Linked DNA regions of Homo sapiens: all the other regions are reported to be linked to region 2. Evidence: microRNA targets listed by miRTarBase, many of them from high-throughput screens and not tested one by one. Region 2 holds a microRNA gene; each other region holds the end of a gene's coding sequence.

Region 1 (4,000 bases), not on the chromosome of region 2:
TCAAGGTGGACGTGTACGGACGCTCCCACAAGCCCCTGCCCCAGGGAACCATGATGGAGACGCTGTCCCGGTACAAGTTCTATCTGGCCTTCGAGAACTCCTTGCACCCCGACTACATCACCGAGAAGCTGTGGAGGAACGCCCTGGAGGCCTGGGCCGTGCCCGTGGTGCTGGGCCCCAGCAGAAGCAACTACGAGAGGTTCCTGCCACCCGACGCCTTCATCCACGTGGACGACTTCCAGAGCCCCAAGGACCTGGCCCGGTACCTGCAGGAGCTGGACAAGGACCACGCCCGCTACCTGAGCTACTTTCGCTGGCGGGAGACGCTGCGGCCTCGCTCCTTCAGCTGGGCACTCGCTTTCTGCAAGGCCTGCTGGAAACTGCAGGAGGAATCCAGGTACCAGACACGCGGCATAGCGGCTTGGTTCACCTGAGAGGCTGGTGTGGGGCCTGGGCTGCCAGGAACCTCATTTTCCTGGGGCCTCACCTGAGTGGGGGCCTCATCTACCTAAGGACTCGTTTGCCTGAAGCTTCACCTGCCTGAGGACTCACCTGCCTGGGACGGTCACCTGTTGCAGCTTCACCTGCCTGGGGATTCACCTACCTGGGTCCTCACTTTCCTGGGGCCTCACCTGCTGGAGTCTTCGGTGGCCAGGTATGTCCCTTACCTGGGATTTCACATGCTGGCTTCCAGGAGCGTCCCCTGCGGAAGCCTGGCCTGCTGGGGATGTCTCCTGGGGACTTTGCCTACTGGGGACCTCGGCTGTTGGGGACTTTACCTGCTGGGACCTGCTCCCAGAGACCTTCCACACTGAATCTCACCTGCTAGGAGCCTCACCTGCTGGGGACCTCACCCTGGAGGGCACTGGGCCCTGGGAACTGGCACCCATGGGGCCCCACCCATGAGTGATGGTTCTGGCTGATTTGTTTGTGATGTTGTTAGCCGCCTGTGAGGGGTGCAGAGAGATAATCACCGCACCGTTTCCAGATGTAATACTGCAAAGAAAACCGATGATGAGGCCGGGTGCGGTGGCTCACACCTGTAATCCCAGCACTTTGGGAGGCCGAGGCAGGCGGATCACAAGGTCAGGAGATCGAGACCATCCTGGCCAATATGGTGAAACCCGTCTCTACTAAAAATACAAAAATTTGCCGGGCGTGGTGGTGCATGCCTGTAATCCCAGCTACTTGGGAAGCTGAGGCAGGAGAATCGCTTGAACCAGAGAGTCGGAGGTTGCAGTAAGCCGAGATCGCGCCACTGCACTCCAGCCTGGCGACAGAGCGAGACTCTGTCTCAAAAAAAAAAAAAAAAAAAAAAAAAATTAGCTGGGTGCGGTGGCCGGTGCCTGTAATCCCAGCTACCCAGGTGGCTGAGACACAAGAATCGCTTGAACCCAGGAGGCAGATGTTGTAGGGAGCCATGATCGCACCACTGCACTCCAACCTGGGCGACACAGTGAGACTGTCTCAAGAAAAAAAAAAAAAGGGGGGAGTGTCCCTTTCTGAGTGTGCAATTCTGTGTGGAAGGTGACTGTGTAGGATCATGGGTCCTGCCTGCTGAGCCCTTATGGGTGGTGATCTCTGTGTCTTGTGAGTGTGCTTGTGTGTGTGTGTGAGAGAGACCCTCATCCGGTGTGCCGATGCGCTGATGACAACCGCAGCCCCAGGGAACTGCAGGGGCTTCTCGGTTTATTTATGTTCCAATTCCCTGGTGGGCTGGGCCCGCGCCCTGTGGTTGGGACGCTGGATCTGGGTGGGAGACAGGAAGGCCGAGGTCCGGGAGGCCCCGGAGGGTGGGCAACACTCACACACACATGCACACTGTGGCAGGGGAGCTTCGGGGGGGCGGCAGACCCCTGATGGTCAGCTTTCTCGCTGTGTGTCCTGGGCTGAACAACACTCCTCTCTGAGGCCAGGCCATCTAGGATGGGGAAACTGAGGCTCGGAGTAAGCGTCACTTGGGCTTCCGCAGCGTCTGGGAACTCCGGCCTCTCTGCGGAGGCCGGGCTGAGTCGGCCCAAAGGGTGGAGGAATCCACCACCTTAAACCTCAGAGTCAGAAGACTGCGGGGGTAGGCGGGGACCCCAGCCAGCGGCAGCCCTGAAACTGCTTCCCAAGCAGATCACCCGCCTGGCCGCCAAGCCCTGCTCTCAGGGCTCCCTGGAAGTCCTGCTGATTAGCCGCCTTGAGTGTCTCCAGCTGTAGCTGTGGGTCCCCGGGAGCCAGGGGCTAGGGATGTTCCTTCATGGCTGGGTGATTCTCCCTGGGGGCGGTTTCCGATCTGCGCCCTCCAGCTTTGCGGGGGGTGGGGGGATGCGGGCTGAGCCTGGGAAGGGACACTGTGGTTAGAGGGTGGTCCTAAGGGCAGACGTGTGGGAAGGAGGGGAGGGGGCCCAGCTAAGGAGAAGGGTTGTAGCCTTGGGAACCCCCAGTCTGAGGGGCAGGAGGGGAGGAGTCTCGCCTCGCCGGTGCCTGCTCTGGGCTCGCAGTGCCCGCCCCTTCCCCGCCCCTCAGACCGACCGTGGGACCCGCCGACCCCTCCCGCGCTCTGGCAACCCAACACCCGAGGCCTGCCAAGCATCAAGGTGACACCGTGGGGAAATCTAAACACCGAGCCGGGCTTTTTCCATACTCCGCAGGGGCTCGTCGTAAATCCCCCCCGTGGAGGCCCGGCCAGGGCTTTTATGGGCCGAGGACCCAGGTCTCTGGGGACCCAGCTCTACACCAGCAGGCGCCGGCTTCGGGCTGGATGGGGCTGGCGCCCGCCCCAGGCCTCTCCCCGCCGGGAGGTGGGCAGCGTGCGGGTATTTTTAGTAGCTGGTGGAAGGAGATAGTGGCTTTCAGCTCACCCTGGTGGGCGAAGACCGGCCCGAGGAGGCCGTCGGATAAGGGAGGCCCAGGTCCACCTGGACCTCACTCTCCTCACCCCCAGAGTGGCTCCCCCTTCCTAGAAACCCACATAGCGGGATCAGTGCGGACAGGGAGACGCTGGGGAACTGATTCCACCTGGATCTCAGGCTCCTCACCCACAGTGTCTCCCCCTTTCCCCCTCTCCAGAAGTCCACACAGCAGAGAGGTGCAGTCAGGAACAAGCTGGGGAAACTGGGTCCACCTAGACCTCAGTCTCTTCATCCCAGAAGCGAGAGGTGCAGTCAGCGACAATCTGGGGAAACTGGGCCCACCTAGACTTCAGTGTCTTCATCCCAGAAGCCCGCACCGCGGAGAGGTGCGGAAGGGAACAAGCTGGGGAAACGGGGTCCACCTAGACCTCGGTCTCTTCATCCGAGCGTAGCTTCCCTTTCCCCTCCCCAGAAGCCCACACAGCGAAGAGGTGCGGACCGGAACACGCTCGGGACGGGCAGAGGGACCCGTAGGGAGGCAGGAAGGACGGTCCCTGCCAACATAGCCCCATTCACCCCATTTTCCTTTTTGTCCGCCATAAACTGGACCCACTTTGCATCTACCCTTCCCCCAAAGCAAACAGCATCCTCCCACTACCCTGCAGCTGGGCCCCCCCCACTGGTCCCCGCTTTCCCGGTGGAGACGGCGACGTGGCCCACACGCGAGCCCCTCGCCGAGGATGAATCACCAGCCAGCTCGAGTTGCCACACTTTATCTCAGTACAGTTATCGCGAGAGTCCCGGGGCCGCGCCGGCGTGCTCTACGCACGCGCAGTCTTTCGCGGGGCCGGCCAGTGGTGCCGTCGAGGCGGGGGGAGTGGCCGCCGCGCCGGCCGAGTGAGGTAGGGTCACACGCAGGCGCACTCGCGCGCCGACAGCTCGTGCACCGTGTGGTAGCGGCTGTGCGCGTCCAGGAAGGACACCTCGTCCTCGTAGGCCGTCGGGCGGCAGCAGGGCTGCGCGCGCACCCGCTCCCGCCGCAGGCGCCGCCGCTGGCGCAGTCGTCGCAGCCCGAGGTCGTAGACGCGCGCGGCAGCCTCGCAGGCGCCTGCGCAGTAGCGGAACAGCACCGTCTCGTCGGACGCGTAGCCCAGGCCCAG
Region 2 (4,138 bases):
CGGGCTGGGATGTGGACAGAAAGGTTACTGGACCCTAGCCTTACCCGAATTCACGTGCACCTTCTTCATCCAGGGGTAGACCACGGCCGGCTGCTTGAGTGCCGTCCCGGAGGGCGGCTGCTTGGGGTCGGACTGACTGTAGGCCCGGGCGCCAGGCAGGGGCGCCGGCGGAGGCGCCGGGGGAGCTGGGCAAGGCTCTCCTGGAGCGGCGTAGTGACCGCCGGGGCCGCCTGGCTCTTGTCCGTGACCCCGCGCAGGCAGCGCCGAGCCAGGCCCGGGGCCGCTGCCTCCGAAAGGCTGCTCACCGAAGTCGGGCCGTGGGTAGAGCCCCGGGGGCTGGAAGTCTGCGCCCTGCGCGCCGCCGCCGTAGTAGTCGGCGCCCTGCTCGCCTAGGTAGCCGCCCTGCAAATACTCCTCGCACGGAGGGAACTTGGGGTCCACATACTTGGAGTTCACCATATACGAACTCATGACCATTAATTTCAGAAGGTAGAAAATACTAATTTTTCTCGTGTTGTCTTTTTTTCTCCTTCCATAGGGCCCTCCTACTTGCTGTCAACTGAATAAAGTTGGGCAGCCATGTGACCAGGCCAGCCAATGGCGAGGGAGCAAGTTTATCACCGGGTTGGTGAGCATCTCATAATTTTCACAAATTTAACTAAATAACATACGTGTAATCAAGTAGCTTGCTATGGCACATTTGAGAGCCCCTGCCAGATATTAATGTAGTTCCAGTCCCCAGCACCCCATTCCCCTCAGGTAATCCCAGCTTTTGTCTGCCACTGATTTTGCCAACCTTCCGTGGCCCTTCCACTCACCCCCAGCTGAATGCAACCCCCGCCCCCCGACACCAAGTAGGCACAGCTCAAGGGAGAATGAATCCTCCTATTGGGGTACAGAGCAATGAAAGGTGGGTGGGTGAACTCGCCTCTGAGTTGGGCAGAGTGCCCCAGGCGAGGAGGGTTCCTGCCTGCCCGCCCTGCCTGCAGCCGGCGGGAGCAGGGATTCTGCCATACAAAGGCCGCCGTCCTGGCTTTGTCTTCATCAGGGTCACCCAAAAGTTACCAGAATCTGGCCAGCTTGAATCAAATTAGGCAATGAGTAACCGCCATGCTTTCTACCAGTGCCCAGGCCCGGGGGTTCCCAGCCAAAGCTGGGCCCTGCCAAAATAGCAGGGGGCCCTCGCTGCCCTTGCCCATGTAGCTGGGGGTGGGCTGGGATGGTGGCAAGGGCACCTCCACCTTGTCAAAATGCACCCTAGAGCTCCCCACTGGGCTTCTTTGAAGCTTGCTTTCTTCCCACAGGCCCCAAATACAAGCAAGCCCCCATTTGGGTACCTTTGCACCTCATGTTCCTGGAGGGCAGAGCTGGGACTGGGCAAGCTGGCCTTGTACCTCACTCCCTAGTACCCCAAAACCTAGCCCTTTGGCCCTGCATCCATGCAACCAATTAGGCTTGCATTCTCTCTTTCTCTCTCTCTCTCTCTTTCTCTCTTTCTGTCTTTCTTTCTTTTCAGCACCCAGAGGATACTCTGTTTAAAGGTGAGGAGCTTCTGGAGAGGAAAAGCTGCTCTATGTCACCAGGCGCAGCTGATCCTCCTGGAGTCCAAGGTAATAAAACAGAACGAGGCGGCTGACCAGCGCCGGCTGCTTCTAGTCTCCATGTCGCACTTTGGTCTCTGGCTATTCCGAAGAAACGTGAAGTTTTTGCATCGACCATATATTCCCCTAGAATCGAATCTGTGACTATACGGATACCACACAAATTCGGTTCTACAGGGTATATATAGACAACGTTACAACCTCTGGGTCCCACCCAGAGTGAGGTACCTAGGTCGCTGCCGGCCCCAATCTCTTCCTCTGAGCCACCACCGTTCGACGCAGCCACCCGCACTTTCTGAGACAGTTCAGGTAGCCTAATGGGCTTGGCGACAATTTGAAGCAATGAGTTCCCTCATTCTTCTGCCAGGGTCAGGGTTACCAAGCAGGCGAACAACCAGAATATTCTTCTTAAGAAAGAAAAAAAGAAAGAAAGAAAGAAAAATAATCCATCCCAAGGATGGCGGCTTTATTAACCACCCTCCCCCACCAGGATCCAAATAACCCTCCTCCTTACCAAGTGGTATTTTCCAGAAAGGAACAAATGCCCTCAGCGGCAGAAGAAAAAGAAGCGAGAGGGGAATATCCTGTGTCTACTCCTTTTCCTACTGCCCGACCAAGCCAGGTTGTCTGCCAAAGCTACTTCTCCAAGAAGTCGCGCATTTACCTTCATGGGCCCTGATCCGGGCTGGCCTCTCCGTTCCGCTGCTGCTGCAGACCCCGAGGCAGGCGCTGCTCACAGGCACCGAGCCGCCTTGGGCTGAGGCCGGCGCGCTAATGGTGAAGGGCAGGGCGAGGGGTCATTCGAAATCATTTACAAACATATCACAAACTTTCATTATTTTTGCTTTGCCGACAGCAGCACACAAGAGTACAAAAGTTCACAAATTTCACCCGCCCCAGCGCCTCGGCACTGTGCAGTGCTTGTCCCTCAGTTCAGGGCATGGAGAGCGCAGACTCACTCAGAGCCTCGATGGATTTCAGGGGCACAGGGATGCCCTGGCTCGAGTGGGGCTTTTGGGTGCCTAACTGTAGGCTGAAGGTGTTAGATTTTTTTTTAACTGTCTTGATTGCCCTTCCTACCTCCCACATAATTCAAAATTTAGTTTCAAGCCTGGGCCTGGGCCTGGTGGGGTGGGGCAGGGATACTCCCCCTCCAAGCCTGGCACTTTGCTCATCCCCCCATCCTTTGCTTCCACCACTTTACCTGTTTCGTAGGGATTTTGGGGGCGCCAGTTCTAACAAGGGCTATGAGGCTGCAGAATCTGTTTATCCCAGGAGAGTCCCCCCAATTTCCCTGAATGCCAAAGACTCCCAAGTATCCACCTTCCTGGGACACTGGGCCTAGGCTCTATCCAGACAAATTGGGGGAGCCTGCTGAGCCGGCTGGAGACCGGGGTGAATATACACATTTTCATATTTGTTAGACGCTGTGACCTGCATTTCACCTTATTGCTCGACTTGTTCAGACAGGTCAAAGCCAACGAGTTATTGATGAACAAAAGCGTTAAATATTCACCTCCCGCTCAACTGCCCATACTAATGCTTTTGATCTCTAGGGCTTTTTGTGCTGTGTTCAGCTACAGGGCGCTGAATGTGGGTTTGCTAGCGAGAAGCTTCTGCAGAGATAAGCACCCAGAGCCAGTGCAGGGGAGGAGAGAAGCAAGACCAGAGGTCCCCAGGACACCAGATTTTCCAGACTGGAGCCCAGAGCCCCTTTCACTTGAGCCAGCCTGGTGTATAGGGGTAGTTGCTCTTCTAGGGGTGTGCACAGTCTACAAAGGGTCGACTAGACTGCCCAGCCCAGCGGGGCCAAAAAACCTGTCTCTGAGGCCAGCCCCAGCTTTTCCAACCAAGAAGGAGGGAGACTGGTTCCTGCAGCCCTCACATATTCCAACTCCCATTAAAATAAAATCACTTCCGTTTTGCAGTGAGGGAGGGGCCACAGTTCTTTCTGTGACTCTCCCTCCAATACCATCGTCTTAATGAGATGGTCCTCCAGGAGGCTTCACAGGCCTAATCAGAAATGTACCTGTCTTTCGCGGCACAGGCAACTCAGAAAGATCCAAACATCCAAGCCAAGGATCCCACGAGTCTCTGGCCCCACCCCACCGCATCCACCCCACTCCACCCTCCTATGCCTCCTTGCAGCACCAGCGCCTCTGGGGCGGAAATTCTCCAACTGCAGTTACAGAGAAGCAGAGGTGAAAAGAAGGTCCGTATCCCTCCTCGCTCAGCCAGTGTCCCAAGCCCAGGGCCCACACCGCTGCAAACAGATCGGGGGAGGGGCGGGGAAGGAATGTCCACATAAAGCTCAGAAGCGGGCAACTCAACACACCCACGGCCACAGAGGATTGAGTTTTTGTTTTCAGTGAATTTTTTTAAAAACAGAAGGTTGGCCAGGCTAGACCAGGTTAAGAAGGGTTGGGCTGCGGAGGGGACCGCATTGCCTTGGTGTTTACTGCGTTGGTTTGAAGCCGCTAATAAGACAGGCTGCTAATTAGCAAGCTCTTAACAGAAGTGAGCGCCTTGGCGGAGCT
Region 3 (4,000 bases), not on the chromosome of region 2:
TAGGGGGGAGATTTGACCGGCAGGCTTCTGCGGAGGGCTGCTTCTACAACGCTGACTACCTGGCGGCCCGAGCCCGGCTGGCAGGTGAACTGGCAGGCCAGGAAGAGGAGGAAGCCCTGGAGGGGCTGGAGGTGATGGATGTTTTCCTCCGGTTCTCAGGGCTCCACCTCTTTCGGGCCGTAGAGCCAGGGCTGGTGCAGAAGTTCTCCCTGCGAGACTGCAGCCCACGGCTCAGTGAAGAACTCTACCACCGCTGCCGCCTCAGCAACCTGGAGGGGCTAGGGGGCCGTGCCCAGCTGGCTATGGCTCTCTTTGAGCAGGAGCAGGCCAATAGCACTTAGCCCGCCTGGGGGCCCTAACCTCATTACCTTTCCTTTGTCTGCCTCAGCCCCAGGAAGGGCAAGGCAAGATGGTGGACAGATAGAGAATTGTTGCTGTATTTTTTAAATATGAAAATGTTATTAAACATGTCTTCTGCCAAACTGTTTTTAGGTCTAGGGAAAATTGAGTAAGGAGAAGAATCCAAGGGAAGGGAATGGGGAGTCGTCCCGAGGGACCCACTGCCTCCCCACCTTCTTCCCTTCCCCTTCTCTCCCCCTCCCCTCCCCAGTTTCCAATGACCACACGGCTGCTGTCAGATGAATGACTTTTAATCCAGCCCCACACCCCAAGGTGGCAGAGGAGTGATGCTGGAGCCCGGGGCAAAATGCTGGGGCCCGGGACACGGCTGAAAGTTCCGTCGTGCTGCTTATTTTTGGGCTCCTAGGTGTTGCGCACAACCAGCGACTGCTCCAGCTCCTGCCTGCGCTGCTGGATCTTTAGAGGAAGTGAGAACAGGAGCAGGTGTCAGTGTTCTGGTGAGTGATCAGGACAATCCCACCTACTGACACCGCCTGCCCTGAAAGAGCATCTGGGAGCAGGGAGGGCCATTGCATGGTGAGGCAGCGTGGTGAAGCTTTACTGTGGGGAGCTGCGAGGGCTGCCCACAAGCTGAACAGGGAGGTTTCTCTTGGAGTTGAGGATGGGGAAGCCTCAGGGCAAGGGTCCCTGCATACCTTGCAGTAGAAGTAGCGACTGACGGCCTCCTGGGACCAGGGCTGGTGGTAGAACTCAGCCCGGCGCTCCTCTTCAGGGTTGCCGGCTACATCTGTCATCACCTGGGAGGGAGCGTGGGGTGAGCCCTGAGCCCTGAATCCCCTCACCTGCCCCTGGAGTACAACGTTTACTCTCTTTCCCGCTGTGCTTGTCTTCCACTCCAGTACTCCCTGAGTCTCCCTCTTCACCTTGAGGTCCCGGCTCTGGGAGCGGAGCAGGTCTTGGACATAGCCTTTGGGGTCTCTGGAGAAGCTTAGCATGAAGTCCCTCTGGATCTTGAGCTGGTTTATGGACTCAATCGTCTCATGGATCTGCAGGTAGAAAGATAGATGCTTTCCACCTGGCTTTGGTGATGTGGGAGACGAGGGGAAAGGAAGCGGGTGGGAAGGGGAGGGAGAGGGGGTTTCTTCTGTGAAGGACAACCCCTCAGAGCCCCTGATTTCTCTGAAGTCCCAGGGGAGGAGGGGATGGGCAGAACTAAACTTGGAATGAGGTTCAGCTCCAAGCAGCATGGACGGGCCATGTGTGTCCCATTGGCCCAGAGTCTGGTCTCTTTTTTTTTTTTTTTTTTAATTTAACCCAGACTGCTCATCTGCAACCACACCCTGGTCTCAGAAAAGTCTCCTCTATCATCTCTGGGTTAATGTCCCACTCCAGCTCTGGGCTTGGGCCCCACCTTACTGTCCAGAGCACTGATCTCCTGCTGGTTGGCCGTGGATAGGAGGAAGCTGCTCATCTGCCCCTTTAATGGCTCCTCCACCTCCACGTCAATGTCATAGCACGCCGTCTTCTTCTGGTCTGAAGGGTCCACGCTGCCAGGGAAGTCCAGCCCTTCGTGTCCACGATGCCCCCATACGGCCCCAGGGCCCCGGGGCTGGGGCAGATCCAACAGGGAGGGAGAAGAGATGGGAGTGGGAGGAGAGGGAGGGGCAGGGAAGGCAGGAACGAGATCATTCCCTGGTCTGAGAAGCAAGCTGGGGCCACCTCACCTGATGACATGGTTGATGACAATTGGGTCAGGGGGCAATAGCAGGGCTGTGAGGCGCTGGGGAATCTCAGAAAACTTCAGCCGGGGACAATCAAAAATCTGAAGCAGGACAATTGGGGAGAGAGAGATCACTCTTCTTGAAGAGATCATCATGCAGTTGTAGATCCTTTTGTTCTAGAAAGGCCACAAGAAGCTGAGAGGAAGTCTGATTCCTCAGTGCGCATGGGGATGGGATTGGGGTGGGCTGGTCTGGTGGTGGAGCCACCGGTATGGCTGACAAGATAGGGGGTGGGTCAGTGTGGGGCAGGGGTTGAGAGTGCGGGCCCTGGGTCAGCCTGCTTATGTATCAGTCCTGCCTCTGCCACTTACTATGCAACCTGGAGCAAGTTAACACCTCAGGGCTCAGTGTCTTCATCTCTAGAGTGGGGATGAAAAGAATACCTATCTCCCAGGGCTGCCGTGAGAAGTCAGTGAACTAATACACATAAAGTGCTTGGGACAGTGCCTGGCACATGGTAAGTGCCCAATAAATATCAACTGCTATTTTTACTCCTCAGGTTTATCTGCTGTATTTATTTTTAAATGCATTAATAAGAATATTCTCTGTTTTGGTGGAATTTTGCTCAATCACTTTTGCAGCAATTTGATTTTCCTAACTGCCCAGGAGAGTAGATAGGACAGGTATTGTCACTCCACTTCAAAGATAAGGAAACAAGGTTCAGAATCGCTGAGTCACTTACCCAGAGTCCAGACTCAGGACTAGAACCTGGGGATCCTAACTCCAAGTGCCAAGAATATTACATTCCAGAAAGCGGTTGGCTTTGTAGGGTTTCCAGGTCTTCCTAACTTGGGGGGGCTAACATGGATTGGCTGCAGCACAGAGCTAATCCACAGTAGGGCCTGAACTAGAATCCTGGTCGGTCTCTTGGCTCCAAGACCATGACTGTGTACTGCTTCTGCTACTCAGGAATCTAGAAGGGAGGGGTGGTAGTTACCTTGGTAGAGGTACTTCCCCTGCTGGAGAACTCCGCCTGCTCCCCAGATCCCAGGGTTCAGGAGAGAGGTTACCTGCTGGAAATACTTGTCCCCATTGATGTATTCCTTGTCATGGGAGTCCTGCAGCCTGTTGGTCTTCACATACTGCCACAGGGCCTGGACAATGGCTGAGCGGCTCTGTGTGTGCAGCCCCAGCAGCCGGGCTAGGCGGGGATCCAGTTTGAACTGGGGAGGCTGGGAAAAGGGGACTGTGAAAGTTAGACCAAAGGGAGAGAAAGGAAGGAGCCCAGGGCCAGGCCATTCAGGACTAGGGGGATGTGTTGATTGAGGAAACATGCCCCTGGGGAAGGATAGGTTTGGGAGGGGAAGGAGGTCTCTCAAGATGCACCACTTTGGGACCTAGCCCTGCCCTGAGGGCCTTGTGTGGCGTGTACGGGGCAGCATGGCAGGTGCAGACCTGGTAGTCCAGCATGAGGAGCAGCGTGCAGCGCACACTCAGGTCCCCAGGCCGTTTCACCTGGAAGCCGTCCGTCTCCTGGGTCGTGGGTGTCCGATGCCACTGTCCAGGAGAGAAGAGCTGTGTCTCCCAAAGGCCCATCTGGAGTGGTGGGGCCCAGGACTCTAGGGTGGTCCCTGACCCAAATCTGTGCTGGTTCTTCAGGGATTCTGGCCTGTGGGAGGGTGGCAATTCAAGGGCGGAGGGGCTCTTGGTCTTACCTCAACGAGGTGGTTGTCAGGGCCATAAAGATCTTTGTCCAGCTCGATGACCAAACTCTTGAAGAAAGAAGAGAACTTCCGCTTCTGTTTGCTGGGCTGTGGGAGAGCAACAGGGACCATGGGGGCAGAACAGGGACGAGGTGGGAGGAGCAGAAGGAGGCCAAGTTGGCAGCCGACAGGGCAGTGGGCTTAGATGAAATCCTC

What was found. Region 2 holds the annotated microRNA hsa-miR-10b-5p (UACCCUGUAGAACCGAAUUUGUG, at 1,760-1,782, opposite strand). A microRNA usually pairs through its seed, bases 2 to 8, with sites in the 3' UTR of a target mRNA and lowers its output. Matches are read on the target gene's strand: a 7mer-m8 pairs with bases 2 to 8, a 7mer-A1 pairs with bases 2 to 7 and ends in A, and an 8mer does both.
Region 1: the mRNA of FUT6 is a reported target of hsa-miR-10b-5p. The part of its 3' UTR that is shown has no 7-base or 8-base seed match.
Region 3: miRTarBase lists CHPF2 as a target of hsa-miR-10b-5p. The part of its 3' UTR that is shown has no 7-base or 8-base seed match.

What each region holds. Positions count from the first base shown.
Region 1 is chr19:5,827,922-5,831,921 of GRCh38, reverse strand. FUT6 (fucosyltransferase 6) reads left to right here. Exons shown (of 3, transcript NM_000150.4): 3 at 1-1,514. The coding sequence ends at 434. NRTN (neurturin) reads right to left here. Exons shown (of 3, transcript NM_004558.5): 3 at 3,598-4,000. The coding sequence ends at 3,749. Among named protein-coding and RNA genes, the nearest start is that of FUT6, 9.8 kb to the left of the region's middle. RefSeq lists silencers at 2,812-2,861, 3,562-3,891 and an enhancer at 3,499-4,000.
Region 2 is chr2:176,147,973-176,152,110 of GRCh38, reverse strand. It overlaps MIR10B (microRNA 10b), which reads right to left and starts at 1,808; the gene lies at 1,699-1,808. It overlaps HOXD4 (homeobox D4), which reads right to left and starts at 561. Exons shown (of 2, transcript NM_014621.3): 1 at 45-561. The coding sequence starts at 477. RefSeq lists enhancers at 109-842, 3,371-3,914.
Region 3 is chr7:151,238,341-151,242,340 of GRCh38, forward strand. CHPF2 (chondroitin polymerizing factor 2) reads left to right here. Exons shown (of 4, transcript NM_019015.3): 4 at 1-482. The coding sequence ends at 341. SMARCD3 (SWI/SNF related BAF chromatin remodeling complex subunit D3) reads right to left here. Exons shown (of 13, transcript NM_001003801.2): 6 at 3,797-3,892; 7 at 3,537-3,638; 8 at 3,152-3,313; 9 at 2,085-2,182; 10 at 1,772-1,907; 11 at 1,284-1,406; 12 at 1,056-1,157; 13 at 440-816. The coding sequence ends at 763. MIR671 (microRNA 671) reads left to right here and starts at 81; the gene lies at 81-198. It overlaps LOC124901779 (a long non-coding RNA gene), which reads left to right and starts at 1,321. Exons shown (of 2, transcript XR_007060596.1): 1 at 1,321-1,412; 2 at 1,679-2,639. RefSeq lists enhancers at 1,211-2,410, 3,167-3,668.